2 separate regions of the Homo sapiens genome follow, and region 1 is linked to region 2. The links come from fine-mapping of genetic effects on gene expression. A gene starts in region 2. The other region holds a variant in brackets. All regions are shown on one strand. Distances are between the middles of the regions.

Region 1 (16,294 bases), 190 kb after region 2:
CATAGGATAGAGGAGCAGTTAATTTTTATTATTACTATAGAAATCTTCAGGGAGGAAATGATATTTAAATTGTGCCTTGAAGGTGGAGTAGGGTTTTGATATGTGTTAGATGGGTTCCAAGGACATTCTACTTTTAAGGAACTAAATGAGCAAGGGCTCAAAGGTGTAAAACGTGGGGAAGGCTGTAAATACACTTATGAATGTCAGCATAGTCCAGAACCTTAGGAAAAGCAATTTAGGTCTTAAAAACAAACAAACAAACAAAAAGACAACAAAAAACTAGTAGTAGGAATGTAAAAATGAAGAAAAAAAGAACAAACAGAAAGTCTAACCCCATAGTAAAAGTATACTTCCTTAGGCCATTCCTATTTATTGCCATGACTAATAAATTTGGGAATGCCTGTGGAAAATTCCTGTGGGCTGATCTTTTCTTAACCACTATTCAAGACTGCTTTACGTTGATAGTCTAAGCCGATCATTTCATTAATATTAAACTCCAGAGCTCATTCCCGAGTTTCCAAGAATTTGCTGAATTGCTTTTCTCTGTTATCTGCTTCTTTGGGTAACTTCCATATTTTTCTTTCTTGCCCTGTAAAAATTGATTTCCTAGGTTTTCCAAGTGATTGATAATGTGACAGTACTATAAAGACTTTTCTTAGACTCTGGTATGTTCGCATTTAGTACAAATACTGTCAAGGGTTTTATAAAGTGTATAACTAATATACTTTCTACATATCTTTTACTAGGGAATTCTAAACTTAAGTATTTTATTTCATTGAGGTTAAAATATGTCCTGTTAAGATTTTTTTTCTCTTTTAAATTATTAGTGTTTTGCATTGTTAAAAATCAGCTGGCTTCTTGGATTGAGTTTACTTCACTTTTCCAGTGGGTAACTTTTATCTGACCTTTAGGTCTGTAATTGTTTGGTTTGTTTTCTGAAGCTATGGAATGTTTTGGAAAAAATAAGCCTCATGGAGAAGGGCTATTATCCCTGAAAATGATGAGACCGGAAATGAGAAAAGCAAAAATCAGATATCACCCTTGACCATGTGGATTTCAGTTTTTAAAAAGTCTTTATCCTCTGTCTCTGAGAACCATTATTTGGAAGTCTGTTTCTCTGCCTCTCTGTGATAAGTTCTCACCAAAGATCCTCTTGTGTTTTTATTAGAATTACATCGAATTCATAAATTGGGGAGAATTTATGTATTTATAATATTGAATCTTTTCATTTATGAAAATGGTTTATTTCTCTATTTAGGTATTCTATAATATTATAGACTTTTGTCCTCAAAGATCTTACAAATCATAATTTGGTTAGATTTATTCATGGGTTTTTAATAGTTTTTAAAAAATGGGATCTGTTTTTATTATGTAATCCAATCAGTTCTTGGATCAGAAAATTGATTTTTATATTTAAAGTCCAGCAAAACTGCTTTGCATGCTTATTAAAATGGCTTGCAAACTATCGTATATTTTCTATGGAATCATATATGCAGTAGCAGTTTTTCTTCTATTCCAAACCTCATACTTCTTTATTCTTGAATAGAAGTGTCATAGTGGGATTTTTTCTTATTCCTGATTTCCGGAGACTCCAATATATCATTTTTCATTTTAGAAAGTTTATTTTTCTTGCTATATTGGTGGAAGCTTTTTTCTTAAGTGATGAATCAATGTAAAATTTTATACTTTTTTATTTTGGAAATTTCTAGTTTATTAGGGTCCTCTTTTAATGGACAAGGCAGTAGAGACTCAAAAAGGTAATGGAGTTTATTTATTTATTTATTTATTTGATTTTCAACTTTTAAGCTCAGGGGTGCATGTGCAGGATGTGCAGGTTTGTTGCATAGGCAAATGTATGCCATGGTGGTTTGCTGCATAGATCATCTCATTACCTAGGTATTAAGCCCAGCATCTGTTAGCTATTCTTCCTGATGCTCTCCCTCTTCCCATCCCCCACCATCCAAGGCCCCACTATGTATTGTTCCCCTCCATGTGTCCCTGTGTTCTCATCATCCAGCTCCTACTTACAAGCGAGAACATGTGGCGTTTGGTTTTCTGTTCCTACATTAGTTTGCCGAGGATAATGGCCTCCAGTTCCATCCGTGTCCCTGCAAAGGACATGGTCTCAATTTTTTTATGGCTGCATAGTATTCCATGGTGTATACGTACCACATTTTCTTAATCCAGTCTATCACTGATGGACATTTAGGTTGATTCCATGTCTTTGCTATTGTGTATAGTGGTGCAGTGATCATATGTATGTATGTATCTTTATAACAGAATGATTTATATTCCTTTGGGTATATAAGCAGTAATGGGATTGCTGGGTCAAATGGTATTTCTGCCTCTAGGTCTTTGAGGAATCGCCATACTGTGTTCTACAATGGCTGAACTAATTTACACTCCCACCAACAGTGTAAAAGTGTTCCTTTTTCTCTGCAACCTTGCCAGCATCTGTTGTTTTTTGACTTTTTAATAATAGTCATTCTGACTGATGTGAGCCATTGTGGTTTTGATTTGCATTTCTCCAATGATCAATGATGTGGAGCTTTTTGTTATATATTTGTTAGCTGCATGTATATCTTCTTTTGAGAAGTGTCTGTTCATGTCCTTTGCCTACTTTTTAATGTTTTTTTTTCCTTGTAAATTTGTTTAAGTTCCTTGTAGATGCTGGATGTTAGACCTTTGTCAGACAGATATATTGCAAAAATTTTCTGCCATTCTGTTAGAAACTATAATCAGCTTGATGATAGTTTCTTTTGCTGTGCAGAAGCTCTTCAATTAGATCTCATTTGTCAAGTTTTGCTTTTGTTGCAATTGCTTTTGGCATCTTCATCATGAAATCTTTGCCTGTGCCTATCTGCTGAATGGTATTGCCAAGATTTTCTTCTTGGGTTTTTATAGTCAGGGTTTTACATTTAAGTCTTTAATTAATCTCGAGTTGATTTTTGTATATGGTGTAAGGAAGGAGTCCAGTTTCAATTTTCTGCATGTGGCTAGCCAGTTCTCCCAGCACCACCTATTAAATAGGGACTCCTTTTCCCATTGCTTGTTTTTGTCAGATTTCTTGAAGATCAGATGGTTATAGGTGTGTGGTCTTATTCCTGGGTTCTCTATTCTGTTCCATTGGTCTATATGTCTGTTCTTGTACCAGTACCATGCTGTTTTAGTTACTGTTGCCTTATAATATAGTTTGAAGTCAGGTAGTGTGATGTCTCTAGCTTTGTTCTTTTTGCTTAGGATTGTCTTGGGTATTCAGGCTCTTTTTTGGTTCCATATGAATTTTTAAATAGTGTTTTCTAATTCTGTGAAGGATGTCAATGGTAGTTTAACGGGAACAGCATTGAATCTGTAAATTGCTTTGGACAGTATGGTCATTTACATGATATTGATTCTTCCTATCCATGAGCATGGGATATGTTTCCATTTGTTTGTGTCATCTGTGATTTCTTTGAGCAGTGCTTTATAGTTCTCCTTGAAGAGGTCCTTCACTTCCCTTGTTAGCCTGGGTATTTTATTTTCTTTGTAGCAATTGTGAATGGGAGTTCATTCATGATTTGGCTCTTGGATTGCCTGTTTGTGTATAGGAATACTAGCAATTTTTGCACATTGATTTTTATATCCTGAGACTTTGCTGAAGTTGCTTATCAGCGTAAGAAGCTTTTGGGTTGAGAGGATGGTGTTTTCTAGGTATAGGATCATGCCATTTGCAAACAAAGATAGTTTGACTTCCTCTCTTCCTATTCGAATATCCTTTATTTCTTTCTCTTGCCTGTTTCCCTGGCCAGAACTTCCAGTACTACATTGAATAGGAAAGGTGAGAGAGGGCATCCTTGTCTTGTGGCAGTTTTCAAGGGGAATGCTTCCAGCTTTTGCCCATTCAGTATGATATTGGCTGTGGGTTTGTCATACATGGCTTTTATTATTTTGAGGTATGTTTCTTCAATACCTAGTTTATTGAGAGTTTAAACATGAAAGGATGTTGAATTTTATTGAAGGCCTTTTCTGCATCTGTTGAGATAATCGTGGTTTTTTTCTAGTTCTATTTATGTGATGAATTACATTTATTGATTTGCATATGTTGAACCAACTTTGCATCCCACGGATGAAGCCTACTTGATTGTGGTGGATAAACTTTTTGATGTGCTGCTGGATTGAGTTTGCCAGTAAAATTTTGTAATTTTTAATATCTACTAAGATAAATCATATGGCTTTTTTATCCCATTAATGTGGTAGATTATGTTAATGGCTTTTGTAGTGTTAAATCATCCTTGCATTGCCAAATAAACTATACTTAGTTATTTAAAAAGAATATATTGCTGTAATCCCAGCACTTTGGGAGGCCGAGGTGGGCGGATCACAAGGTCTGGAGATCAAGACCATCCTGGCTGACACGGTGAAACCCTGTCTCTACTAAAAATACAAAAAGAAATTAGCCAGGTGTGGTGGCGGGTGCCTGTAGTCCCAGCTACTCGGGACGCTGAGGCAGGAGAACGGCGTGAACCCGGGAGGTGGAGGTTGCAGTGAGCTGAGATCGCGCCACTGCACTCCAGCCTGGGCAACACAGCAAGACTCCGTCTCAAAAAAAAAAAAAAAAAAAAAAAGAATATATTGGTGGATTTTTTTGTTACTATTTTGTTTAAGAATTCCTTGTAGTTTTTGTTTGTAGTACCGATTTTTCTTTCTAGATTATAGAAGAAGCTCAGCAGCTTTCTTCATTTTCTATTCTCTGGAAAAATTTTTATAACATAGGATTTTCTCATCATGAAGATATGGTAAAACTTATTTCCACATCCTCCATACTTGATGGAGTTTCTAAGTAGGAGGGCTTTTAAAAATAATTTATAAATTGAAATATAATGTATTTATGGGAAAATTGCACAAATGATAAATGTAGCTGTAGCTCAATGAATTTTCACAAACTGAACAATCTCATGTAACCAGAATCCAGATGAAGAAACAAAAAATTACCAATGTCCCAGAAGCCCCCACTGTGTGCCCTTTCAGCCACTGCCTTTTCTGAGGGTGACCACCTACTCCAGTTTCTAAACTGTGTATTTTAGGGGGGTTTGGTTCGTTTTTGAACTGTATACAGATGAAATTATACAGAATGCTTTTTTTTTGGTATATGGCCTTTTTCACTCTGTAGTGTATTTGTGAGATTCATCATGTTGTATTGTGTAGTTGTGGTTCATTCTGTTTGCTGTGCAGTATACTATTTTGTGATTATTCATACAATAGAACATATTACATATTTATGTATCCATTCTACCATTCTACTGTGTGTGTGTGTGTTTTTTTTTTTTTTTTTTTTTTTTTTTGAGACAGTGTCTCTCTCTGTTGCCCAGGCTGGAGTGCAATGGCAGATCTCAGCTCACTGCAACCTCCGCATCCCACGTTCAAACAATTCTCCTGCCTCAGGCTCCTGGGCAGCTGGGATTACAGGTGCATGCCACCACGCCCAGCTAATTTTTGTATTTTTAATTGAGGTGGGGTTTCACCATGTTAGTCAGGCTGATCTCGAACTCCTGACTTCATGATCTGCCTGCCTCGACCTCCCAAAGTGCTGGGATTACAGGCGTGAGCCACCATGCCTGGCCCATTCTACTGATAATGGAGTTTTGCATGCCTTCTAGTTTTAGCCTAGTGTAAATAGGGCTGCTATGGACATTTTGGTGGACTTATTTGCACATTTCTTTCAACCTAGGAGTTGAATTATTGGGTCATCAGTTATGCATGTATTTAGCTTAGTGATGTTGCCAAACAGTTAAGTTGTTGAACTAATTTATATTCTTACCAGCAGTGTTGGAGTACTGGTTGCTGCACATTCTTGTTGGGCTTCGTATTTAACTACTATATTTTAGCTACTCTAGTGGGTATATTGAATAACATGTAGTATGCTGTTAACTTGCCTTTCTTTGATGATTAAGCACATTAAACACTTTTTTCATATACTTATTGGTTATTTGTATAATTTTGGTGAAGTGATGTATTGCTTCTCGACATGCTATAAAGAAATACCTAATACTGGGTAATTTATAAAGAAAAGAAGTTTAACTGGCTTATGGTTCCATAGGCTGTACAGGAAGCATAACGGCTTCTGGGGAGGCCTCAAGAAACTTTGAATCATGGCAAAAGACAAAGGGGAAGCAGGTGCATCTTACATGGCAGGTGGAAGAGAGAGAGGAGGGATGTGCTCTACACTTTTAGCAGGAGGAAGAGAGAGAGGAAGGAGGTGATAACACTTTTAAACAACCAGGTGTCGTGAGAACTCTATGAGGAGAACAGCACCAAAGTGATGGTGCTAAACCATTTATGAAGGATCCACCTCCATGATTCAAACACCTTCCACCAGGCCCCACCTCCAACATTGGGGATTATACTTGAACGTAAGATTTGGGTGGGACACAGATCCAAACCATACCAAGTGCCTACTCAAGTTTTTGTCCATTTGAGTTGTCTGCCTTTTTCTTAATGACATGCAGAAGTTCTTTATATATTATAAATACCAATTCTTTGTTGATTTTATGTACTACAACTAGCTTCTCTATGGGTATATTTTTATTAGTTACTCAGTTTTTAAATAGTTATCCAAACTTTCTATTTCCTTTTGAGATCTTTTTAATAACATTTTTCCAGAAAGTTGTTGATTTATCTTAATTTTTAAACCTACTGATAAAAAGTTGTTTAATCTATTTTTGGTATCCTTTCAATTATTCTAGAAAATTATTAGTTGCTATCGCTTTAAATATTGCATATACAAGTATATATGAGGATGTGTGTGTATTTTTAATATAACTGGTAGCATACTTTACATACTGTTTTGTACCTTATTTTCTTCACTTAATATTTCTTGGAAATCCTTGCATTTCATTATATAAGGAGTGCATCATTTAAAAAATACTTTCATAGTATTTAATAATATTATGTGATAATATATTTACCCAATTTTTTATTGATAGGAATTTGAATTACTGCTAGTCTTTTGCTGTACCAAGCAAAGCTGAAATTAGGATAAATACATAAAGTGGAATTTCTGGTCTTATAAACTCCTGGGCTGATGATAGAGTATTAACTTTTATGTTTATGTTCCATTTTTAATGTTTTAAGTCTTTTAGAAATTGAGATATAAATGACATGCAATAAAATTCACCATTTTAAAGTGTACAGTTCAGTGGTTTTTACTTTATTCATGGAGTTGTGCGATCACTACCAGTATATAACTCCAGAACATTTTCATCATCCCAGAAAAAACCCTTAGTAGTCACTCCAGATTCCTGCTTTCCCCCAGCTCCTGGCACCCTCTAATCTATTAGTTTTCTGTCACTGTGTATTCGTCTATTCTGGACCTTTCATATAAATATAGCTATACAAATGTGATCTTTTGTGCTTGGTTTCTTTTACTTAGTATAATGTTTTCAAGGCTCATCTATATTACAACATGTATTTATGCTTATTTTCTTTTATGTATGGTCAAATAATATTTCAGTGTATGGATATACCACATTTTATTTGATGGTTATTTGACTCAGTTTTACTTTTTGTCTATTATCAATAGTGCTGCTATGAATACTTGTATCTACGTTTTGTTTGGACATGTGCTTTTAATTCTCTTGACTCTATATCTGGGAGTAGAATTGCTGGGTTCTATAGTAATCCTATGTTTAACTATTTGAGGAACTGCCGAACTGTTTTTCTCAGTAGCTGCACCATTAGCACTGTGTGAGGTTCCAATTTCTTCACACTTTTATCAACGCTTTTTATTTTCCTTACAAATTAAAAAAAAAATTATACCTGCTATTCTAACGAGTATGAAGTGGTATATCATGGTTTTGATTTTCATTTTCCTAATGTCTAATGATGTTGAGCAGATTTTCAT[G/A]TGCTGATTGGATATTTACATCTCTTCTTTGGCAAACTGTCTTTTCAGAGCCTTTGCCTCTTGTTTAATTGGGTAATTTGTCTTTTTATTGTTGAGTTGTAAGAGTTCTTTATAGAGATACTTATATTATGTGTGTTGATAAAGGGCAAATATCTCCATATGAAGTGTTCCTTTATGTTAATGAGAGTAAAAATGCTAACTTCCAAATAGAAAAATGGCCAAATAATACAAAAAGGAATTCACAGGGAAGAAAAACAAGTAGCTAATAGTAAAAAAATAAAGAAAAAGCAAATTACATTACTGAAATAAATGCAAATTGGAATGATGACTTTTTTGCGTATTATATTTTTAAAAATATGATTTTTTTTGTGGGTGAGTATGGGGTGAAACTCTCAGGTAACATAGGAAATGTAAATTGATTACCTTTGTAGAGGATATTTGGCAACATTATAAAATTATATAGAATATGTCTATATAATTTGAATCAGTAGTTTTACTTCTTGGAATTTTTTCTGAGAAAATAATCATTATTTTGCATATAGATTACATACAGTGATACTCATGCCAGTATCATCTTTAATGGCATAAATTTATAATCAGCAAGAGGATGGTTAATTACATATAGTACAATATTTTACCATTGTTAAAATTTATATTTTAAAATATAGACAAATTGATCTTCATATAATGTTAATGTTAAGTGAAAAGTAGTAAGATACAAAGCTGTGTAAAATGTATGATAACAATTCATAAAAAGCAACATTCACCCACACAAAAACCTCCACCACCACACACACACAGAAATAAGAGTGAAAATAAACATTCCATCATATTGACAGTGATTACCTTCGGGCGGTGTAATTAAGGTTGATATTTATTTTCTCCTTTATGTAGTTCTGAATTTCCCAGATTTTTAAGATTAAATATGTATTGCTCTCTAACTAGGGAAAGAAGTAAAATAATTATAAATAAGATAGATTAAATGGATTATTATGGTGCAGTGAGACCTTTTCCCATTGGCCCTGGGATTTTCTTCCTTTGGTTTATGAGTTTAAAGTGTTGACAGTTGTGAACTAGTTTGCTAAGTGATAGGAAGCAGTGTTGAAATGAAATACTTTAAATCCTGAAGATTTATGAGGAAGAAAATACTTGGGCAAATAGTGTCAATGAGTCCTGATACGTATTGCTAACTTGTCACTAGTTCACTTTACATCTGTGTAGTGATAACTTTGTTTTTTCCTCCCTCATTGATTATAGTCTCTCATCCCACCATTTGCCAAGGCCGTGTAAATAGTTTGCTGTCGTAGAGATACGCAGCAGGCCCATTTGAGTAGTTCTCTTTCACTCTGATCTCCTTAGAAACCTATCACTTTTACCTTTAAATGATACATTTTTAAAAAACTATTGTTGTTGTTGAATGGGATTTCCCTAAATAAGAAGAGCCATCTCCCTAGTTTCAGGATTGTGGCTTCTTTAATTGTAATGGAGTTTTAATATTATATCTACGGTGGAAATCAGAGTCAATTCAATCTTATTTTGCATCCCCTGTATGCTATCATACTGATTAGGGGTGTAACAAAGAATGGACTGTGATTTTTGCCATTTTGTGGTTTTCACTGGAGATTTTATAGTACAGAGGGAGAGAATGGCATAGTAAATAAAAGAATGAGCTTAGAAGTGAGACTTTGTGGGTTTAAATACCTGCTCTCTAATTTATCAGTTTGTATTTAACTTCTCAATATCCTTATCTGTAAAGTAGAAATAACAGCACTATCATTCATCACTTTCTATTTCCTTATCTTTTTGCCTTTTCTTCATGGAAGTTTTCACTTCCAAGACATTATGTTTTTCTTCATTTATTTACAGTAATGTAAAATCCTGGAATACATGTACCTTTTTGGTTCACTCATGTATTTTTAGTGTCTAGTGTAGGGTTTGCTACATAATAGCTCCTAATATTCGTTCCTTCTACTGGGAACTTCTTCCAACATGAATATCCATATAGCTTATCCCCATGCTTTATTTAGTTCCCTGCTCAAGCATCACCTCACTAGAGAGAACTTGCTAGACGACCTCTTCTATAAAATAGCACCCTTTAGTTTTCTCTATTTTTTCCTGCTTTATTTTTCTTCATAATACTTTACTGACTGCTAAGTAGTAACATCAATTTATTTTTATATTTTCGAGTGCCTTGCAAAAATTAGGGTCTTCATAAATGTTTGTTTAACTGAAATTAATTATCTTAGACTATTCTATCTTATTCTCATATGTAATAAATTACCAGCTTGTGACTGTTTATTTCTAGGCTCCTTCAACCTATTCATTTGTTTCTATGCTTATTTCCACTTCTTTTTTCACTACACTAATTCAGTTAACTGCCACCTGTTTTGTGAACAATTGAGTAGTTTCTCAATTTTGTTTTGTTTTCCTCCAGTTCCTCAACCTGCACAAAACATCTAGCTTACTGCTCTTCAAATATGCTATTATCATTTCATTCTTTTTCAATGGCTTCCCATAATCCATTGAATTAAATGATATTCAAATCTCTTTATATCTAATTGGAACCTACCTTTCCATAGCACTAAGGAGAGTTGTAAGGAGGTGAGTACTTGGTGTAAAAATTGCTTATAGATGTAGTTAGCTTGCTATGAGATTAAAATGATTTTTAAAGTACAGAGAAAAATAAGAAATAACTTTAATGCAAGTCAATATATAATCAACTGATTATACGTGATTTAGTCCACAGATTTATAGAAATTCAGATAAAAAGATCATTGAAACCTTGGCTCATCAGAGAGAGCTTCATTAGAAAAACTGATAGTTGTTTGGGGTCCTGTATCATTTATTCATTTTATTTATTCAGACCCAATTTCTCCCTGTTTTTCTAATACAAATATATAAGATTTTAGAGTAATGGATTCTGTTTTGTTAATATAAAAATATTTCTTGTGTCAGAAGAATTCAGATGCTTATAGATATTCTTGTAAAATGTTATTATTTTTAATGAGATTGGGTCTTATTCCATTACTTTGAAAATGTATACAACTGAGCTGTTTCTTCTGATCAGCTTATACTATGGACACTTAGTTTGAAGTCATATTGGAATAATTTGGAGAAAGGTAGAATTTAGTAGATATTACAGAATTTAGGTATCTATTGTAAAATTTAGGTTTTATATAGGGCATGACATTTTTTAAGCGAATTTATAATAAATAGGGCTTTTTCAATTATACAGTAATGTAGGTTCCAAAGTGCTATTTTGTGGGTTTTCTGTGTGTTTAGCTGTTTTGTCTGTACTTATATTTGTATTTGTATTGTACAAAGGATATAAGTTTCTTTGTAGTTTGGATAATCTTTTGGATGAAAGAAAGGTAGTGAGTCATACAAAATAGTGAAAAAAATCAGATATTTTGAAATAATACTTCTAATTTTCCAAGGATTTACCAAAATAGAGGATGTTAATTTTTAGTATGAATTTTTAATGATTGGATTGGTTTTCTGATGACTGTTTTAATTAGTTCTGCAGGGCATCCCATTTCTATCAACATAGTGTGTGCAACACCTTATTTACCAGTAATCAACTCATATCTACTCTCAGTCTGTAAAGAGGGGTGTATATGAACCTTTACTTGTTATTTTTTACTTACGTAAATTTATTTACTTTTACATTCCTGGTCAAAGTGAATAAACATTTTTTATACAGATGAGTTCATTTCCTCACTCCCATATCCATTCCAGTTTCTAAGAGCCTTCTGATTAACAGGCTCCCCAAAATTTTTCCCTTCCAATTTAAATTTAAGTAATTAGCTTTTTCCTAATTTGGAACCTTGGTTAGAAAACACATTTGTTTGATTTGTCATTAGTTTGGGCATCTTACTTCAAATGAGGTCATGTAGCTTTGAGTTTAGATGATCACAGAAGTGTTCACTGAGCAGCATCTTCGTAGCTTTGAGGAAACAGAAAAACAACTTTTTTCTACTTTGATTATGATTCTTTTTGACAGTTGCTTTAACTACAGTTAGGTACTGGCTGTACCAGTTCCAGTTTAAACAACTGGACTCTGAACCTGTTTTTGTTCTGATTAAGAAGTTTATTTATATGTTCAGGAATACAGCGGCACAACCTGTTAACAGCTGTAAATTTGCTTGATTAAGCTGTGTGTAGACAAATTTACTAGAGGGAACTGTTCCCTAAAAATTCCAGTTCACTTACATATGAAGTTAGTCTGGCTGTTTCTCACCAGTTTCCATCATTTCCTGCCAAGAATAATAAACATTTTCTTGCAAAGCATCGACACTAAAGGTTAGAAGTGTTCAGTGTTTTATCAATCACACTGGGCTGTCATGAATCTCAATAAACAAACACAGAGATATCTATGTGGATGCCTGGAGAAGCCGTTAGACCCTAGAAAAATAATTTCTTTCAGACAGTATCCTAGACCTTTTCAAAGTAGATAAATGTCAATTATGAAGAGACATTTATTGTAATGGAAATAATGGATTCTTCGGTCTAGATTTTCATTTACTGACCTAGTTCAGGGAAGCTTGTACTTTTAGTGGATAATAATAAGCTAGAGCAAGAAAGTGTGTTTTCTTAATTTCATATAACTGTAGATGCTATTATGAGTATTATAATAAAGATGGGTTTATTAATTTAAACTTATAGTATTAACATTTCTCTACCATGGTCTGTCAGGCAAACTGTGGCTCACGACTGGTGCACAGCGTGTTATTGTAGCACTCACAAGTTAAGAATGGGTTTATAGTTTTAAGTGATTGTAACAAACATAAAACAAAGAATTTTATATATATATATCTAGAGAGAGCGAGAGAGGAGAGAGAGCCCTCAAAGTCTAAAATATTTATTATCTGGCCCTTTAAGATAAAGTTTGCCAAACCCTGGTCTATATTAGTAGTAATAGTTTACTACCAGCATTCAAAACGTGCCAGCAACAAAGCAGGATGAAATTATAGTCTTAGTGTTAGGGTATTTTATTTCTTATTTAGTGTTAGGATATTTTATTTCTTATTTGCATGTGGTATATAAAATAAAAATATAACAGTATCCTTATAGGGTTATTGGGAGCATTAAATCATAACTTTTTGTGGTGCTTCTTACACATGGAGGACAATAACTGTTTTGTTAGCTGTTGCTGTTGTTATATGTCAGATGCCTGACAGTTGTTTCAACTTTGTTTTATGTGTGTATCTTCTGTTTATTCTCTGCTCTATTTGCATTATGTTTAATTTTGTAAGTCTTTTAAAAATCTTTTTGATTTTAGTTGCAATGCAAATTTTAAAAGTATAGCAGTTTTATTGTTCCCATTCCTGTGGCTGTGTAACAGATTACCCCACAACTTAGTGGCACAAAGCAATCAGTTATTATGCTCACAGATTCTGTGGGTCAGGAATTCGGACAGGGCACAGCAGGAATGGCTTCTCTTAGTTCCACAGTGTTTGAGGCTGGAACCTCAAAGGCTAGGCACTATAATCATTCATTCATTTATATGTCTGGCAGATGTCACTGGCTGTTGGCCCCAGTTCCTCTCCACATGGGTCTTTCCATGTGATGTCTCCAAATGAACTAGTTTGGGCTTCCTTAAGTAGAGTGTCTGGGTTCCTCAGAGCAAACATTTCAAAAAGAGAAAGATAGGCAGAAGCTATATCCTTCTTATGACAGAGCCTTGGAAGTCACAGAACATTATTTCTATTTTGCTCTGTTGGCCAGAATAATTAGAAATCCCCCTAGGTTCAAGAGGAGAGAAATAGACTCTACCATGTGATGGGTGGGGTTGGCAAGATTCTGGAAGAGCATGCTGGACCAGAAATACGGCTGAAGCCATTTTTGGAAATATGATCTGCCACAATGATATTACTTTATTTAATAATTGCTTATGTAGCATTTAATCTATATGCTAGGGACTACTGTAAATACTAAACAAATATTAATTCATTTAATCCATAACAGTCTTATTTTACAGATGAGGAAACTAAATCAGAATATTGTATTACGTAGAATATAACTTTCTCTGCTCTTGATGGACAACAAATAATTTACTATGATTTTAAAAACTTGTCTAGTATTATTTAAACATTAAATATTTTGGATGCAAATTTGCATTTCCTGCATGCATCATATTAGAATAGACTTGAGAGGTGCAGTTTCTATTAAGTAATGTCTTAAATAAGTACAAAGGTCAGGCATCCAGGAGCTCATCCTTCCATATTCTTAGAATTGGGATGTGATAAATAAGTCAGAATTTTTTCATGAAGCAGTGCCCAGATGAGTACATGTTATCAAATATTTTATTTGATAATAATGCAGGACTGACTGACCAAACTTGATTTATAAATTAGTTCCATGTCCTTTTATGAGAATAAATACAATATCTTGGTCTTGTTGTGATAATATTACCTAATGGCTATGTTTTCCTTCATTGGCATTGAAATCAGAACTGATTTTTGGTAAGGTTAGTAATTTGCGTTATTTTTAAATCTCCATTATTATGAAGATATTTTATCAGGGACAAAGATTGCCTTTTCTCTCTCCCTCTCCTTTTCTTTTCTTTCTTTTTTTTTTTTTTTCCCATTAACAGTTGATGGAGGAAGGTAACTTTGTATGAGTTATTGTTGGACATGCAAGCCCTGTTTTTTTACATTTGTTGATTCTGCTTTGGAGATTTATCAGTCTCTGAGCAAGTTGCTTTGAAGCATTTCAGTCTTCTTTGTCTCTCAGAACCCATTAGTGCTATCTTCAGGATGTGCCAGAGTGACTTTTACCCTGGTACATTTGTGACACAGTTACACCATATCTCCTACTCTCTACTCATCACTGTATAGCAAGTACAAGTTACCAGATAGAAGCATATTCTTGTTGGATTATCAAAACTCAGGTGGAGTGTTTAACATCTTTTTTGAATATTTAAATAGTGTTTTTCTTTCTAATTGGCAAATTTTGGGTATTCTTTAAAAACAATATTTGATTAGGAGATCATGGAGAAATTTGTATGGTCAAAACTTGCCAAATTTGAGACTCACTTATTTGTTTAAATTTAAGGATCAGTAAAAATAAATAAATAAATAAATAAATAAATGTAGGAATCTAAGATAGAGACCTGTACTATTCTGAATGTGAATGAACTGATTACATTGATTGGAATACGTAATTTAGGAGCATTCATTATTACTTTTTGACTTGGAAACAATATAAGAATGAATGCAAAAAAAAAAAAAAAAGGAGCATGTGGATTCATTGCTATCTTGTTTACTGCTCAGTCACTTATTTGAGAGTGCCAAACCCTACCCACTAGGGCCACCCGGGATGCTTTGTTTATTTGAGAGGGGGTGTGGAGGCATGGTGAAGGGCAGGAGCTCCAGAGTTAGGCTGACTGGGTTTTAAACCCAGCCCTCCTGCCATCTGTGCAATCTTGGTCCAGTTACTTAAAACACTCTGTGATTCAGTCTGCTTTTCTGTAAAATGGCTGAGTTTTCTCATTGGTAGAAATGGCATCTACTTCATGGTGTTGTAAACATTAAATGATTAAATATATGTAAAGTGCTTAGGATAGTGCTTAGCACATTATAAGCTCATAAATGTGCGCTCCTATTCATTAAATCATTCTTTCATTCACTTATTAAAAGCATGACATTTATTTAACACCTACTATGATGGGGATACAAAGGTGACTACTCAGGAGATATGAATATTATAATAGGGGGAGGCAGAGGTATATTATAGTCATTACAACATACGATGGTGTATTAGTCTGTTCTCATGTTGCTAATAAAGACATACCTAAGACTGGGTAATTTATAAAGGAAAGAGGTTTAATGGATTCACAGTTCCACATGGCTGGGAGGCTTCATAATCATGGTGGAAGGCGAAGGAGGAGCAAAGTCATGTCTTACATGGCCGCAGAGAAGAGGGCGCGTACAGAAGAACTGCCCTTTATAAAACCATCAGATTTCGGGAGACTTATTCACTATCATGAGAACAGCATGGGAAAAAACCTGTCCCCGTGATTCAATTACCTCCCACTGGGTCCCTCCCATGACACGTGGGGATTATGGGAGCTGCAATTCAAGATGAGATTTGGGTGGGGACACAGCCAAACCATATCAGGTGGAGAGTGATATAGGTTATAAAACAAATATGTCAAAGTGCCATGAAAAGAAGAGGACAAAATTTTTGATAGCCTTAAACAATCGTTTCACTTTTCTCTGACACCATTTATTCATTTATAAATGCCTTACCTTTTATGGAACTTTTACAGTTCTTCAGCAGGAAATAATCTCTCCTTTATTGGCATCCCTATATCATTTTGCCTTATGGCAATTATTATTTTCTATCTTTCTTTTGGCAGCTGTTGATAGTAATCATTTTGTATCTTGTTAAATCATTATTTGTTCCTATCTT
Region 2 (14,873 bases):
TACTAGAGAGATCCCTTAATCAGTAACAATAGTTCTTTTTCTCTTTGAAGATACTATAGTAACTATAGGTTACTATTTTAGTTCAAGTTTTCTCTTTTAAATCTGAAACCATAGCCAACTCTTAATGATGCTGGGTTTCATTATGTTTCAATCTTGTTTTTCTTTCTTCTCGCTCCTACTAGTCTTTCTGTCATTTTTCTTTCCTAAACAACTGGCTAAATCCTGGATAAGAGATACATTCAGATTAGCAATTTCTGTTACTTTTTGACAGCTCTGTGAGGAACGATAAATATCATGCAAAAGTGGAACCAAAGACAAAATTAATTCTGGTGACCGAGAGGAGCAAAAATTTAAAAAACTGGCGAAATTACAGACATTTTAAAAGTAGAATTTGTGGTTTCTTAAAGTCCATCTGGGCTAAAAAAGTAGTGTTAAGGTGGAAAAAGCAGAGGATTGAGGTCAGAAGATCTTGGTTTCAGCACCAGCTCTGTCAAATAACTTTACGGTGTGTCCTTGGGCCAGTCATTTCTAAGTTAGAGGTTCTTCACTTAAATCTCAAAGTCTGAAGTTCAATATGAAAATGTCTCAGAGTAATTCTTTTATAAGATATAAATTTCTGATAATTAACATACTTCTAAAAGGACTTTTAATGGAAGTTTATCTTTAAAAAAGGTAATTCCTTACCAGGTTTTTTTTTTCAATATTAATTTGCTTACTTGTTTTTATATCTGGTAATTTTCTGTTCAATTCATGTGAATTATTAAACTATGAATTAATGGAATTTGAATCTATGAGATGTCATGGAATTAGGCTAGTTAAAATATGATTTTTGGAAGAAAAACCAAGTTTCAGCTCAGCCCATTCTCTATTACTTAAATGTTGAATAGATCCAAATGTTACAGATTCATATTTTATTTGCTATTTTGTTACCTTCACTGAGTTTCCAAAAGTTCTCTTTAGGCACAAGACTCATGGTGGTATTTAACAAACAGTAATATATGCCAATGTATATTAGTGCATTAATGAATGAATTTAGGTAAGGAGACAGCAATAAAAATTTAAGCCATTCTTTGAGAATGAGTATGATGAATTTAATGATAAAGGAAGTAACAGACAGAAGGGAAATCCCACAACTACTTTCAAGTTCTTCTCAGTCCTGGCCTCGGAGGAAAATTTAATATAAACCTACTTACCTTTTCCCGGGCCAACCATTTCTCCAGTACAAGAAGCCAGACCCAGGCTACTCTTTGAGGGTTGATGTCCTGCCCACATCTGAAAAAGGTAAAAAGAAAGACTTGTAAAAAAGAGTTTCTACTGATCTTTCATCTTTTGTCATCCAAGACAGATTTCATTGCTTATTCTGTTTTAAACCTGAACAGGCAAGACACTGCCCTAATGAGATATTTTTAAATGTATATGACAGTTCAGTAAAACATTGGAACCAGGCCAGGCAAGGTGGCTCACACCGGTAATCTCAGCACTTTGGGAGGCTGAGGTGGGTGGATCACCTGTGGTCACGAGTTCGAGACCAACCTGGCCAACATAATGAAACCCCATCTCTACTAAAAATACAAAAATTAGCCAAGTGCGGTGGCAGGCGCCTGTAGTCCCAGCTACTCGGGAGGCTGAGGCAGGAGAATCGCTTGAACCTGGGAGGCGGAGGTTGCAGTGAGCCTAGATCATGCCACTGCACTCCAGCCTGGGTGACAGAGCAAGACTCTGTCTCCAAAACAAACAAACAAACAAACAAACAAACAAACAAATCAGAACCAGAACAGAGCTAGCAGCTTTCATAAAAAGCCTTAATCTCACCTCCACCTCCTTATCTTAGTTTAAAATAAAATAATATTCGAGAAAACCATAATAGCTAATACTATCTGAAGCATATTTTTAATACAGAAAGTGAATCAGACAGTCTTAAAAAAGGAACTTCATACAAATTTATTTTTAACTATATGCTAAAAACAGGACTTTAGGAATTCATAAGCCTTTCTTTGAAGTTAGGAATTTAGACGGTAACTGGCTAGATCTCAAATTAAAGGAGAAAAAGAAAAGGAAGGGATCACTTAAGTTTCTCCATCGTATATGTGCTAATACAATATGTAAACAGTATAGCATAACAGTCAAAGGAAGGAAAACCCAAGGAAAGACTTAAAACGGTACATTTGACTCCTACATCACCAGTGGTTACTAGCATCACCAGGAGGAACTTCATTGAAAATCAAGGATGGAGAACTGTGGTTGCCAGGGAACAAGGAGGGGTTGTTGTATAAATACAAAGAGGTAGCACCAAGGAGTGAGGGAATTCTTTTGTGGTAATGGAACAGTTCTGATCCTTATTACAGTGGGATTACATGAATCTATATATGGATAAAACTGCATAAAACTACAAATGAAAAAATGAAGGCAGATTAAGAAAATGCTGAAAACCAAATAAACTCTGTAGTGTCATTTAAAGTAATGTGCCAATGTCAATTTCATGGTTTTGATATTGTACTACAGCTGTATGAGACGTCGCAATTGGGGCAGACTGGGAAAAGGATACGCTGGACTCCATTATTTTTGCAGCTTCTTGTGAGACTGCAATTATTTCGAAATAAAAAGTTTTAAGTAAAGCGACAACAATATTTTCAATCTCATAAGCAAGAAGAGAGCAGGGTTTGCTTTTTTGGAGGCAAAGAAAATAGTTTTCAATGCAGTTCCACCATCTATATTAACGAGGATAAACAAGAAATGGCAGTTTCAGGCACACTTTGGCAGCCAGGCTTACATTCAGTTGCAGATGATAATCAAAAGCCAATATTGACTAAGTAATGGATGTATACTATAGAGGTAAAATTTCAGAGCACGTGAAATACACTGTGCCTCTGCTTATTCTTCAGAGGGTAGTTGAGTGGGGGCACATTGACCAATGCCCAAATATTGAACCACATGTCTCTCACCCTGGGACCGTCTGGTAGGAAAAGAGATCCCTTACCTCAGCAGATTTGGACACACCACCAATGCCTGAAGTATGTCTTCTACCCTCTTTGGGATATCCCCTTGTCCCTCCTGTAGCTGAGGTACACATGCCTGTGCCAGCTCCCATTCTCCCCTCCGCAGGCATTCGCAGAAAAATCCAAAAAGCTGCTTCTGCGAAGCAGCTTCCTCTTTTCCAAATGGATGATTCATTTTCCCAGCACAGAGTGCAGGGAGATACAAAGAAATGAGTTATGCCGAACACATTCTCAATGTTCTCATTCGCGGAGTACCTCCTAGAAACAACACAACGCCAGTGAGAAGAAACAGAAGGCACTGTATTAAGACAAAGCAGCAACTACTGGTCCGCCTGGGAAAGGCGGGACTTGCTTGCCTAAGTATCGTTTTCAGTTTAATTTCCCACGTTACTTTTTGAAAACACTTTCTTCAAGGGGTGGATCCCATCTCTTCACGCGGATTCCTATATTTAATAATATTAATAGTCATATTTGCTCCGGGCGCAGACCCATAACTCTACGTCCGTATTCCCTACTGAACGTTATGCCCAGTCTTGACTCCAAATCCCCAGGTGGTCGCCTCCTCAAGAATGAGAAATTCAGCAGGAACCTCCCTAGTTTGAGCCCTCTGTTAAGGCAGAGGATTGACGACCAGGAGACGAATCTGTGTCATAAGTGGAAAGCAGTGTGGGGGTGGGCCGCAGGGACGCTCTCTGCGGGGGTCGTGGAGAGGGGCCCCTCCCTCTCAGGGGTGTCTTACACTCACCTGCTCCCGGCGCCCAAAGCAATAGAGCTCTCAGCGCAGCCATGTTTGAGCCGAGTCAGGTGACAGAACCCACTCCGAACAGCGGTGGTGGGGGTGGTGACAAAGACTGAAAGCCCCACTCCTATTGGCTCAAGGCAGGGAAGATGAAAATTAAGTGCCATATTTGTTTGAGTCACGTGACGCCACCTCTCCGGGAGTAGGGAAAGCTAGAAAGCTCGGAAAGAGGAAATCAGCTACCTGGCTGCGGACCATCTCCCTCAATTGTGACAGCTCCGGCGCTCAATACTTTCAGTTCTGCATTCGGCCGAGCAGGTGGCAGGAAGAACTGTGACCCTGGATTTTTTTTTTTCTTCCACTCTCTTATCTCCTTAACATGTGAAGTCAACATTTATTGAACGCCAACCAGTGATGGTGTTTTGCCAGGCGCGGGGGATACCCGGAGCTAGGAGAACTGGGTTCTCCTCCATTATTATTCTATCTACTGGGCTCTTTTGTTCCGGAACTCTGCGGTCTGAATTTCCATATTCTTCTGCTTCACTCCATTCATTTATTTGCACATTTACCCTACAACTGTTAATTGAACGGTGTGCTAGGCTTTATTTTATTTTTTTAGAGACAGAGTCTCTCTGTCGCTGGAGTGCGGTGGTGTGATCTCGGCTCATGGCAGCCTCGAACTTCCTGGATCAAGTAATCCTTAAGCCTCAGCCTTCCTGTAGTAGCTGGGACTAGAGGCGCGCGCCACTACACCGGGCTTAGGCCCTATTCTCTAAGTTGAGTAAATGGAGGTCCTTCTTCTCAAGGGAGATGCAGGCCAAAAATTAGGAGACGGTGGGCTAAATTATAAGACAGAAGTATGCATAAGAGATCAGAGAGCAAAGAATGAGCAAAGGCTTTTTCGCAAACACAATAATCTGAAACCAAGTCTTTTGTTTTGAGACAGAGTCTCGCTCTGTCTCCCAGGCTGGAGTGCAATGGCGCGATCTCGGCTCGCTGCAACCTCCGTCTCCCGGGTTTAAGCGATTCTCCTGCCTCAGCCTCACTGTGTAGCTGGGATAAGCGATTCTTCTGCCTCAGCCTCACTGAGTAGCTGGGATTTACAGGCGCGCGCCACCACACCCGGCTAATTTTTGTATTTTTAATAGAGACAGGGGTTCACCATGTTGGCCAGGCTGGTCTCGAACTCCTGACCTCAGGCAATCCGCCCACCTCGGCCTCCCAAAGTTCTGGGATTACGGGCGTGAGCCACCGTTCCCAGCCTGAAACCAACTCTTGAAGTAACGGCTTACTAGGTTTGCTCACCACAGCTGCCTTACACCAAGCCTTTTGTTTGGTTTCCCTGGTGTGCTTTAATCACAGACTCTCAGCTTTCCTCACTATGTGTGTTTCAGGTTTAGTAATTTCATTCAGCATTTCCCAAACTATTTAATCACCAAAGGGTGGTGAAAAGAGCAAGTTAAAACAAACAAAACGTTTTCTTCCAAAAACTCTTCTGTGATTGGTGGATTGTCCTCGATTCCTGAGAAAAGTAACATGGCTTTCTGGCCCATTAAGGTTTTTTTTTTTTTTGAGGCAATGTCTGGCTCCTCTCACCTCAGCCTCCCAAGTAGCTGGGATCACAGGTGCCTGCCACCATGTCTGGCTAATTTTTGTATGTTTAGTAGAGGCGGGGTTTCGCCATGTTGGCCAGGCTGGTTTCGAAATCCTGAGCTCAAGTGATCTGCCTGCCTCAGCATTCCGAAGTGAAACCGCCTTTGCAAAATTATAACTGAGGAAATTATGACAGTGAAAGAAATCAGACCTAACCGACTCTATCTTGCTTCTAACCGTTAAGCTGTCCTTGTTCATTCCTGGGCGTAGGCTGAACTAACTTTGGGGAGGAATTCAGTTCATGGTTTGACTCTGAAACAAAATTGATAACAGCCCTTTCCGAAAAGACCCACTTCTTGCCTGGGGACCAGTCTGCCTTTGCAGGACTAACAAATTAGCTACAAGTTTAGAAATTACAGTTTAGAGGTCATGCAGCCTCTGGCTCCAAGAGTCTGAACCTCCCCAAATTGCTCCCGGGGGTGACATCACTATTGCAAGCCCTAAGATCAGTGCTTGAGATATTTTGTAGACCCTGCACTCCATGGATCAGCTGACACCACTCAGACCAGTAATTTGGCGCAACCAGTTTTGCCATCACACCCAGGAACAGAAGACATTAAGAAAACCTCACTTCGACCCCTTATGATTCCATCTCCAACCTGACCAATCAGCACTCCCCACTTCCTAAGCCCCTACCAGCCAAATTATTGGTAAAAACTCCGATCCGCAAATGCTCGGGACAACTGATTTAAGTAACAATAAAACTTCAGTCTTCCGCACAGCTGGCTCTGCGTGAATTACTCTTTCTGCATTGCAATTCCCCTGTCCTGATAAATCGGTTCTGTCTAGGCAGCTGGTAAGGTGAACCCATCGGGCAGTTTCAAAAGTGCTGGGATTACAGGCATGAGCCACCGCGCCCAGCCTATTTTTTGTATTTTTTTGTAGAGGCGGAGGGGTGGGGGAGGGTGTCTCACTATGTTGCCAAGGCTAGTCTCGAACTCCCAGGCTCAAGTGATCCTCCCGCCTCGGTCTCCCAAAGTGCTGAAATTACGGGCGTGAGCCACTGCGTCTGGCCCCTTTAAGCCATTGTGAAAAGTGATGATACACGAAAAAAAAGATTTCCAGGGCCGAGAGCGGTGGATCACGCCTGTAATCCCAGCGCTTTGGGAGGCCGAAGCGGGCGGATCACGAGGTCAGGAAATCGAGACCATCCTGGCTAACACGGTGAAACCCCGTCTCTACTAAAAATACAAAAAAATTAGCCGGGCGTGGTGGTGGGAGCCTGTAGTCCCAGCTACTAGGGAGGTTGAGGCAGGAGAATGGCGTGAACCCAGGAGGCGGAGCTTGCAGTGAGCCGAGATCGCGCCACTGCACTCCAGCCTGGGCGACAGAGCGAGACCCCGTCTCAAAAAAAAAAAAAAAGAAAGAAAAAAGAAAAATTTCCAAACAGGGTGTTCCCTTGTTTCACATTCTCTTTGGTGATGGTCCTGCAACAGATTTTGATAATCACTATATTGAGAAACTGCTTCAGATTCGATCTGTTAGGCTGATCATAGTATTAACTACAATTCCCAGCAAGCCGCGGAGCCAACCTGGGCCTCTGCCGGCCTCTGATTGGATACAGTAGCCAGAATGACGACTCAATCAGTGCTTCGGTTGTTGCTTTGCGGCGTTTTCCGCGGGGAAACTGTGTAAAGGGTGGGGAAACTTGAAAGTTGGATGCTGCAGACCCGGTACTGGAAAGTTTCATGTGGGGTGCCGTTGTGGGGAAGTGGGGTTCGCTCATTATTTCCTGCTCCTTCCCTAGGCTCGTGGGTTTCGATATTGGGGGAGCGGAGATTTTCTCTTGGGTGCTGGTCACGCCCCCTTAAGACTCGGGATCGTCACTAAGAACCCCGCTGTGAATTGGGGGAGCTTCGGGCCTTCTTTTGGTGGGGAATGCTTGGAAGCTGCTCATTGTTGGAAAAAGCTCTTTTTAGGGGATTCTGGGTGATGTTTCCGCCTGTTGCTGCCCATCTTCCTCCCCAGCCCCTTCCCGCTTCGGGCAGCCTGTCATTAGGGGAAGTTGAGGGACTCTCCCACTTCAGGTGGTGTTGGAGAGCGTGGAATCTGGAGTCCGGTCCCTGGATTCGAATGCGAGCTTCACACCAATTGTCAGCTGTTTAACTTTGCCCAAGTTTCTCAACTAGTTACCTCAGTATCCTTATCTGTAAAGTGAGGTAAAATATCCGAAGCCTTTGGAACAGTGTGGCACGTAATAAGGGCTCAATAAATATTAGCTAATATTGTTCCTAAACAGTTGTTGAACATCTAACATGAAGAATTTTCTTTTCTTGGTGGTAAGGAGGACAGGGTTCATTCTCCAGGGTTGACCGTCTCCCCTCATGTGCAATACACATACGTGCTTTCGCGCACACATACACCGCAGGAATTTACGTGCTCCGGTGGGGGCAAACAAACTTGCAAGCCATAATAGTATTTTGATAAGATTATCGAATAGATATGTGCGAAGTTGATGAGAACATTGGAGAGGAAAAGACTTGACTCTGGGGAAGGTTTTGTGGAGGGAAGTCAGGGAGACAGGATGCGTGACCTACCAATACACATACCATGTGGCTGGAGGGCAGATCATGTGAGAGTCATTAAATGATGATTGCTGACCTTAAGTACTATGTGCCACGCACTCCCCGAGTCCTTTAACCTCCACTACAGTCATATGAAGTAGTAAATTCATATGACTGTAAAACAAGGGTTTTAAGGAAATTAAGACACTGAGAGGTGAAGTAACTGCCAGGAAGGATAGGAACTGAACGTTGCAATGTGATGTATGAGTGAGAAGGAAGTGAGGGACCAATTTTTGATGTTTTTCTCTGCGACCCTAAGAAGTTTGGAATTTATCCTGTGGTCTACCAGTCCCATGGGAAGTGTTAAAGGATAATCGTGACTTTTTAGGAAGCTACTCAAGGCAGGATTGTGACACTGATCTGACTTTTGCAGGCGAATTTGGGGCTTCTTCCTGTCTGCTTCCATAGCACTTTTAAATAGCAATTGTAATGCTTACTGCATGGCTGTAGTTATTTGTGTGTACCTCTCTTTTCATCTCAACTATGAGTATTCAAAGGGGAGGGAATATGCTTAAATGATTCTTGTACCCCAGACCTCAGCAGGGTGTGTATTTAAATGCCTGTGGAAGGAGTAAATTAAGGAACAAATGAATGGAGTGGCCAGAAACAATATGCAATAGTCCAGGCAAGTGATGGGAGTGGCCCTATTAAGGCAGAAATGGCAGAATTGGTTGTTGTTAAAGTCCTTGTAGTTTAGAATTTATAGTTTTTTGTTTGTTTGTTTTTTGTTTTTGATAGGGTCTCAGTCTGTTCCCCAGGCTAGAGTGCAGTGGCATGACCACAGCTCACTGCAGGCTCGACCTCCTGGGCTCAGGTGATCCTCTCATCTCAGCCTCCTGGGTAGCTAGGACTACTACAGGTGTGCGGCACAATGCCCAGCTAATTTTTGTATTTTTTTGTGGAGACAGGTTCTCTCTATGTTGCCCAGGCTGGTCTCAAACTCCTGGGCTCAAGCAATTTGCCTGCCTTAGCCTCCCAAAGTGCTGGGATTGTAGGCGTGAGCTACCTTGTGTGGCCTATGGTTCTTTTCTTTCTCCTTCTTTTTTTTTTTAAATTGAATTTATCAGTCTAAATGGTGTCATTACTTGAAACTACCTGATCTGAAAAGACACTAGGCAATATTATAGCAGGTATCACTTGGTTTTCTACTGGGGGAAACAAGTCATTGCTAACAAATTCCCATGGAGAGAAATGAGGAGGATGTATTTTTGTTTGTGAGAGGTGTGTATGTATGTATATTGTGTGTGCGTGTGTGTGTGTGTGAGAGAGAGAGATTGATTCAGTCTGATTCAGAGAATTTAGGTGTTAAATAGAAATTTGGGCCATGGTATTGGAAATAAACAAATATATACATTCTCAGTATACATATATTTTCATTCCAAAATGTTACTTCTTTTCTGATAACTATATTGCTTTATTCCTTGGATCCATGAAGAGTTCCTGTTTCAGTTCGTTCCAGAGGATACTTCTTTACCATCTCAATGAGATATACAGCTTCTCCTTTGTATGCATTAAGAGACTCACAGTAATTCTTTTTTAGCTCTGTGAAGATAAATCTTTCATGAGCCTCATTTACCCCTAGCAAGGTACAATAGTGAAATTTAACTGCATGTGAGAATATAAGCAGCTAGTGTAATAAAGAACATTTTGGGCCAGGTCTGATCGCTCATGCCTGTAATCCCAGCACTTTAGGAGGTCAAGGCGAGAGGATCACTTGAGCCCAGGAGTTCGAGACCAGCTTGGGCAACATGGCAAAACCCTGTCTCTACAAAAAATACAAAAATTGGGCAGGCATGGTGTCGACCCTGTCTCTACAAAAAATACAAAAATTAGCCAGACATGGTGGTGCACGCTTGTGGTCCCAGCTACTTGGGAGGCTGAGGTAGGAGGATTGCTTGAGCCCAGGAGGGGGAGGTTGCAGTGAGCTGAGATCGAGCCACTGCACTCCAGCTGGGGTGACAGAGCCAGACCTGTCTCGCTCTCTCTCTCTCTCTCTATATATATATTTAAAAAGAACATTTTAATACTGCAGTGATAAAATCTCATTTGATTCAGAAGGTGTGCTCTGACTCCTAGAAAAAGGAAGAGTTAAATATGATTATGGACTTGCAGTAGAGTGTAATGGTTAAGAGGATAGGTTTCAGAATTAGACTGCCTGGATTCAAATTCTGGATCAGTTATTTATGTTTTCTGGTGACAATGGACTAGCTAACTTTTCCAGGCTTTAGTTTTCTCATATGTAAAAAAGGGGCCAATAATCTACTTTCCTTCTAGGGCTATTGAGAAGATTAAATGTGATAATTTAGATAAGTTTTGGAACAGTGCCTGGTATGTGGTAGGTGCTCCATAAATATACCTATTGCCGTTACAGTGCAATGTAAATTGTTACAGTGCAATAGACTTTCTAGTAGTTCTGTTTGGAAATATGCCTTGAAAGTTAATTACATTTCCAAATAAAATTTATACATGCATTGAACATTTTAAGATGCTCTACAAATGTGAAGTGGTACTATATTCATGTAGTAAATATCAATTAATTGTGTGAAATTATATTTGAGGTTGCCTTGTAGATTTTCTATGTGCCTGTTTGACGAACAATTGTCCCTCCTATTTAAAACATTTAAAAAGGTTCTATAGCATTCCTTTATCAGTAATATTTTTAACACAATATGTTTCATTTTGCATATGGAGAAACTTGAGGAATTTTTAATTTTGTTTTGGATAGCCTATTCACTATCACTTATGTTATATTCTGTTGTTTTTTTCATGGTTCTTCTTTTCTTTGCTGGATCTGGAGGCATGGGTAGCAAGAAACTAAAACGAGTGGGTTTATCACAAGAGCTGTGTGACCGTCTGAGTAGACATCAGATCCTTACCTGTCAGGTAAATTTTATTTAACATTTTTATTGATAAGTTTTATGCACAAGTTAACTTTATACCTTAATACCTCTTAAACTTGAAATATGAAAATGTAGGCTTACAAAAAAAAGATAAATGATGGTGCTTTTCCATAGGCTAATTGTAAATATCAAGCCTCCTTGGGTGCATTTCCAACTGCTATTTCATTTACCCAAATTTAGTATTTTTGCATTTTGAGGGGAAAGTGGTCACGGCATAAGGTGAAGTAACAGCTTTACTGTTTTATAGTTACATGAGAAATAGGACTCAAATGAGGAGATACTATTCAACATGTATCATTTCTCTTAAAAGCAAAAGAAATTAATAGACCATTTTCTTATTGATGGAGCATGAGAAATATATAGAGCGGATCTTGCATTTTTAAGCAAGGTGGTGAAGCAAATCCTCCTTAGCAGGGTAAATAAGATTTAAAGGTTTTGGTTGGTTGTTTTTGTTCTTTGTTGTTTTTGAGACTAGGTTCTCATGCTGCCCCAGCTGATCTTGAACTCCTGGCCTTAAGCAATCCTCCAGCCTCAACTCCCAGCTAGCTGGGATTACAGGCACACACCACTGTGCCTGGCTAGATTTAAGGTTTTATCTTAGGATTTTATCCTTTTTTTGTTTGTTTGTTTAGAGTCAGTGTCTCACTCTGTTGCCCAGGCTGGAGTACAGTGGTGCCATATCGGCTCACTGCAATCTCCTCCTCCCCGGTTCAAGTGATTCTCCTGCTTCCATCTCCTGAGTAGCTGGGATTACAGGCACATGCCACCACACCCAGCTAATTTTTGGATTTTTAGTAGAAACGGGGTTTCACCATGTTGGCCAGGCTAGTCTCAAATTCCTGATCTCAAGTGATCCGCCTCCCTCAGCCTCCCAAAGTGCTAGCATTACAGACATGAGCCACCGTGCCTGGCCTGATTTTATCTTTAATAAGACATTTTCACAGAGCATTCTGCAATTTTTTTTTTGAATTGCTTTCTGTGTTAAAGATAACATCGGTTCCTTTGTTATACATTTAATTATTTGCATATTTATACTCGGAAACATTCTTAAAAGTATGAAATTTGTTATTTCATCCTATAGTCAGTTTCATTCTTTTTCAACTACGAAATATTATCTCTGAGTGAACTTCTAGCTTAGAAAGAAACTCTTTCGGCCGGGCACGGTGGCTCACACCTGTAATCCCAGCACTTTGGGAGGCCGAGGTGGGCAGATCATGAGGTCAGGAGTTCGAGACTAGCCTGGCCAATATGGTGAACTCTTGTCTCTACTAAAAATAAAAAAAATTAGCCAGGCATGGTAGTGAGTGCCTGTAGTCCCAGCTACTCAGGAGTCTCAGGCAGAAGAATCGCTTGAACCCAGGAGGTGGAGGTTGCAGTGAGCCGAGATCGTGCCACTGCACTCCAGCCTGGGCGACAGAGCAAAACTCTTGTCTCAAAAAAAAAAAAAAAAAAAAAAAAAAAAAGGAAAGAAACTCTTTCAACCTGACACTTTCTGGGCATATATTTATACCCAAATTCTTTTTGGCACAAGTGTAGCGCTCATACGCACCTGGATTGGATGCTGGTGCTATGTGATATTATTTGGTGTATCCTCTGGTATATGCCAACTAAACAGGATAATTAGAAGATAAGTTTGTGTCATTACAACTTTTAGTTAAGGCATATTTATGGGGAAAATACTACAATGAATGTATAAATCTTTGATCTGCGATAAATTATACTTTTGTCTACATAAGCAGTATCAATTGAAGGTTTCCTTTTAACTCTAGTATCTTTGTTACACATATATGTTTAAAATACTCTCTTTATGTTTCTTTAGGACTTTTTATGTCTTTCCCCACTGGAGCTTATGAAGGTGACTGGTCTGAGTTATCGAGGTGTCCATGAACTTCTATGTATGGTCAGCAGGGCCTGTGCCCCAAAGATGCAAACGGTATATTTATATTTTATTATGATTTGATTATGAATGATTCCTCATCTCATTAAACATGTTTTTTTAGGGATGAGGCACATGCAGAAATAGAGATGAGTACCTCAAAAATACTGAGTTTTCTACTATAGAAGTTAGTTCTCTAAGGAAAATACATGTGAAAATTTTTTTTTTCTTTTTTGAGACGCTCTGTTGCCCAGGCTGGAGGGCAGTTGCACGATCTCGGCTCACTGTAGCCTCTGCCTCCTGGGTTCAAGCGATTCTCCTGCCTCAGCCTCCTGAGTAGCTGGGATTACAGGCACGGTGCTACCAAGCCAACTTATTTTTATATTATTAGTAGAGATGGGATTTCACCTTATTGGCCAGGCTGGTCTCAAACTTCTGACCTCAAGTGATCTGCTTGCGTCGACCTCCCAAAGTCCTGGGATTACAGGCGTGAGCCACCGTGCCTAGCCTATGTGTGAAAAATTTATGTAGTTTATAAACTCATGGGAGACAATTTCTAAATATGGGAATTAGGGAGCAACAGAAAGTTTTTATTTTTTTTTCTATAGCCAATAGCAGTAGTTCAAAAGGTCATCTTTCTCTGATTGATTAGGTAGTATTTGATGGCCTCATAGTTAAATTATAATCTTAATTTTAGAATGCCCCTTTCTTTGATATACTGACCTTTACCATCATCACTTGCTCTAGATCATAAAGTACACATAATTGTACTTGTAGTTGCTTATTGATTGAATAAAAGGTAATTAAAAATTTATCCTTTACTCTTAAGAAAATTTGAAGTCTTTTACAAAAGCCCTCATCAAATTGTACATTTTTTCAGACTTTTTGTGTCATGACTGTAGCTTTTCAAAATGTAGATTTGGAGCATGATAGAAATATCTTGTTTTCTCACAGTAAGAGTTTCCTAAAATTCTGTTCGGTGCTTTGCAAATGTATTTATTTATGTGGACTGTAAGTTTCTTACCTTACTGCCTTATATTGAAATTTACTGAACACTGAACAATGAAGTACAATTCTCTGAAGAAGGGGAGAAGGAAGGAATGTTAGTGTCACTGGAAACTTCTAAAAACAATGAACAGATATTTGAACAACAGATATTTTCTTTCTTTTTTTTTTTTTTGAGATGAGGTCTGTCTCTATTTCTCTGGCTGGAGTACGGTGGTGTGATCTCGGCTCAGTGCAGCCTCCGCCTCCTGGGCTCAAGCCATCCTCCCACCGCAGCCTCCCGAGTGGCTGGGACTACAGGTGCACACCACCATGCCCAACTACGTTTTGTGTTTTTTGTAGAGATGGGGTTTTGCCACATAGCCTAGACTGTTCTTGAACTTATGAGCTCAAGTGATCCTCCCGCCTCGGCCTCCCCAAGTGCTGGGATTACATCAGCCACTGTGCCTGGCCAAACAACAGATATTTTCTTTTGTTCAGATTTAGCTTGTGATCTGAGGAAAATATTTTAAAGACAGGATAGTCAGAAGGAGAATCAGAACTGGAGTTAGAAACTGGCATTAGTCTTAGCTTTATCATTGATTTCATTGCTTGAACAGCTTTCTTTTATGGGAGAAAACAGAAGTTAAAATACTATGCAATGATTCTGTGACTAGATTCAAATTAACTTGTTATTATTTTGAAGGTTGTAAAGCACCAGAAAAACCTTTAATTTGTCATCTGTCATTCTAATTAGTCAATATCCATGGCATATTTCCCGTTAATAAATAGAGAGCATGGTCCCGAAATTCAACTTTAATTTCTACTTCCATCACTACCTTCAGCTGCCATCTTAATACAATTCCAAATACAGTTCAAGAAACCATCTTTCTCCTATGGTTTACATTCATTCTTGTAGCATTCCTTATATTTCAGCACTGCCCTAAACACTGGCTTAGTTTTTTTTTTTTCCAACTTTTATTGTAAGTTCCGGGGTACATGTGCAGGATGTGCAGGTTTGTTACATAGGTAAATGTGTGCCATGGTGGTTTGCTGTATGGATCATCCTATCACCTAGGTATTAAGCTCAGCGTCCATTAGCTATTCTTCCTGAAGCTCTCCCTCTCCCCCACAACCTCGCAACAGGCCCCAATGTGTGTT

Evidence for each region.
Region 1: its variant is fine-mapped to the expression of ZFYVE26 in whole blood (TOPMed, PIP above 0.99).

The regions. Positions count from the first base shown.
Region 1 is chr14:67,999,752-68,016,045 of GRCh38, forward strand. All of the region lies in intron 7 of RAD51B (RAD51 paralog B), which reads left to right. Among named protein-coding and RNA genes, the nearest start is that of RAD51B, 190 kb to the left of the region's middle. The variant G/A (reference allele first, on the strand shown) is at 7,880.
Region 2 is chr14:67,812,793-67,827,665 of GRCh38, forward strand. It overlaps ZFYVE26 (zinc finger FYVE-type containing 26), which reads right to left and starts at 3,798. Exons shown (of 42, transcript NM_015346.4): 1 at 3,742-3,798; 2 at 2,978-3,254; 3 at 1,194-1,272. The coding sequence starts at 3,171. It overlaps RAD51B (RAD51 paralog B), which reads left to right and starts at 6,987. Exons shown (of 11, transcript NM_133510.4): 1 at 6,987-7,061; 2 at 10,750-10,835; 3 at 12,672-12,785. The coding sequence starts at 10,752. RefSeq lists enhancers at 4,010-4,179, 4,230-4,329, 6,820-7,114, 7,374-8,135.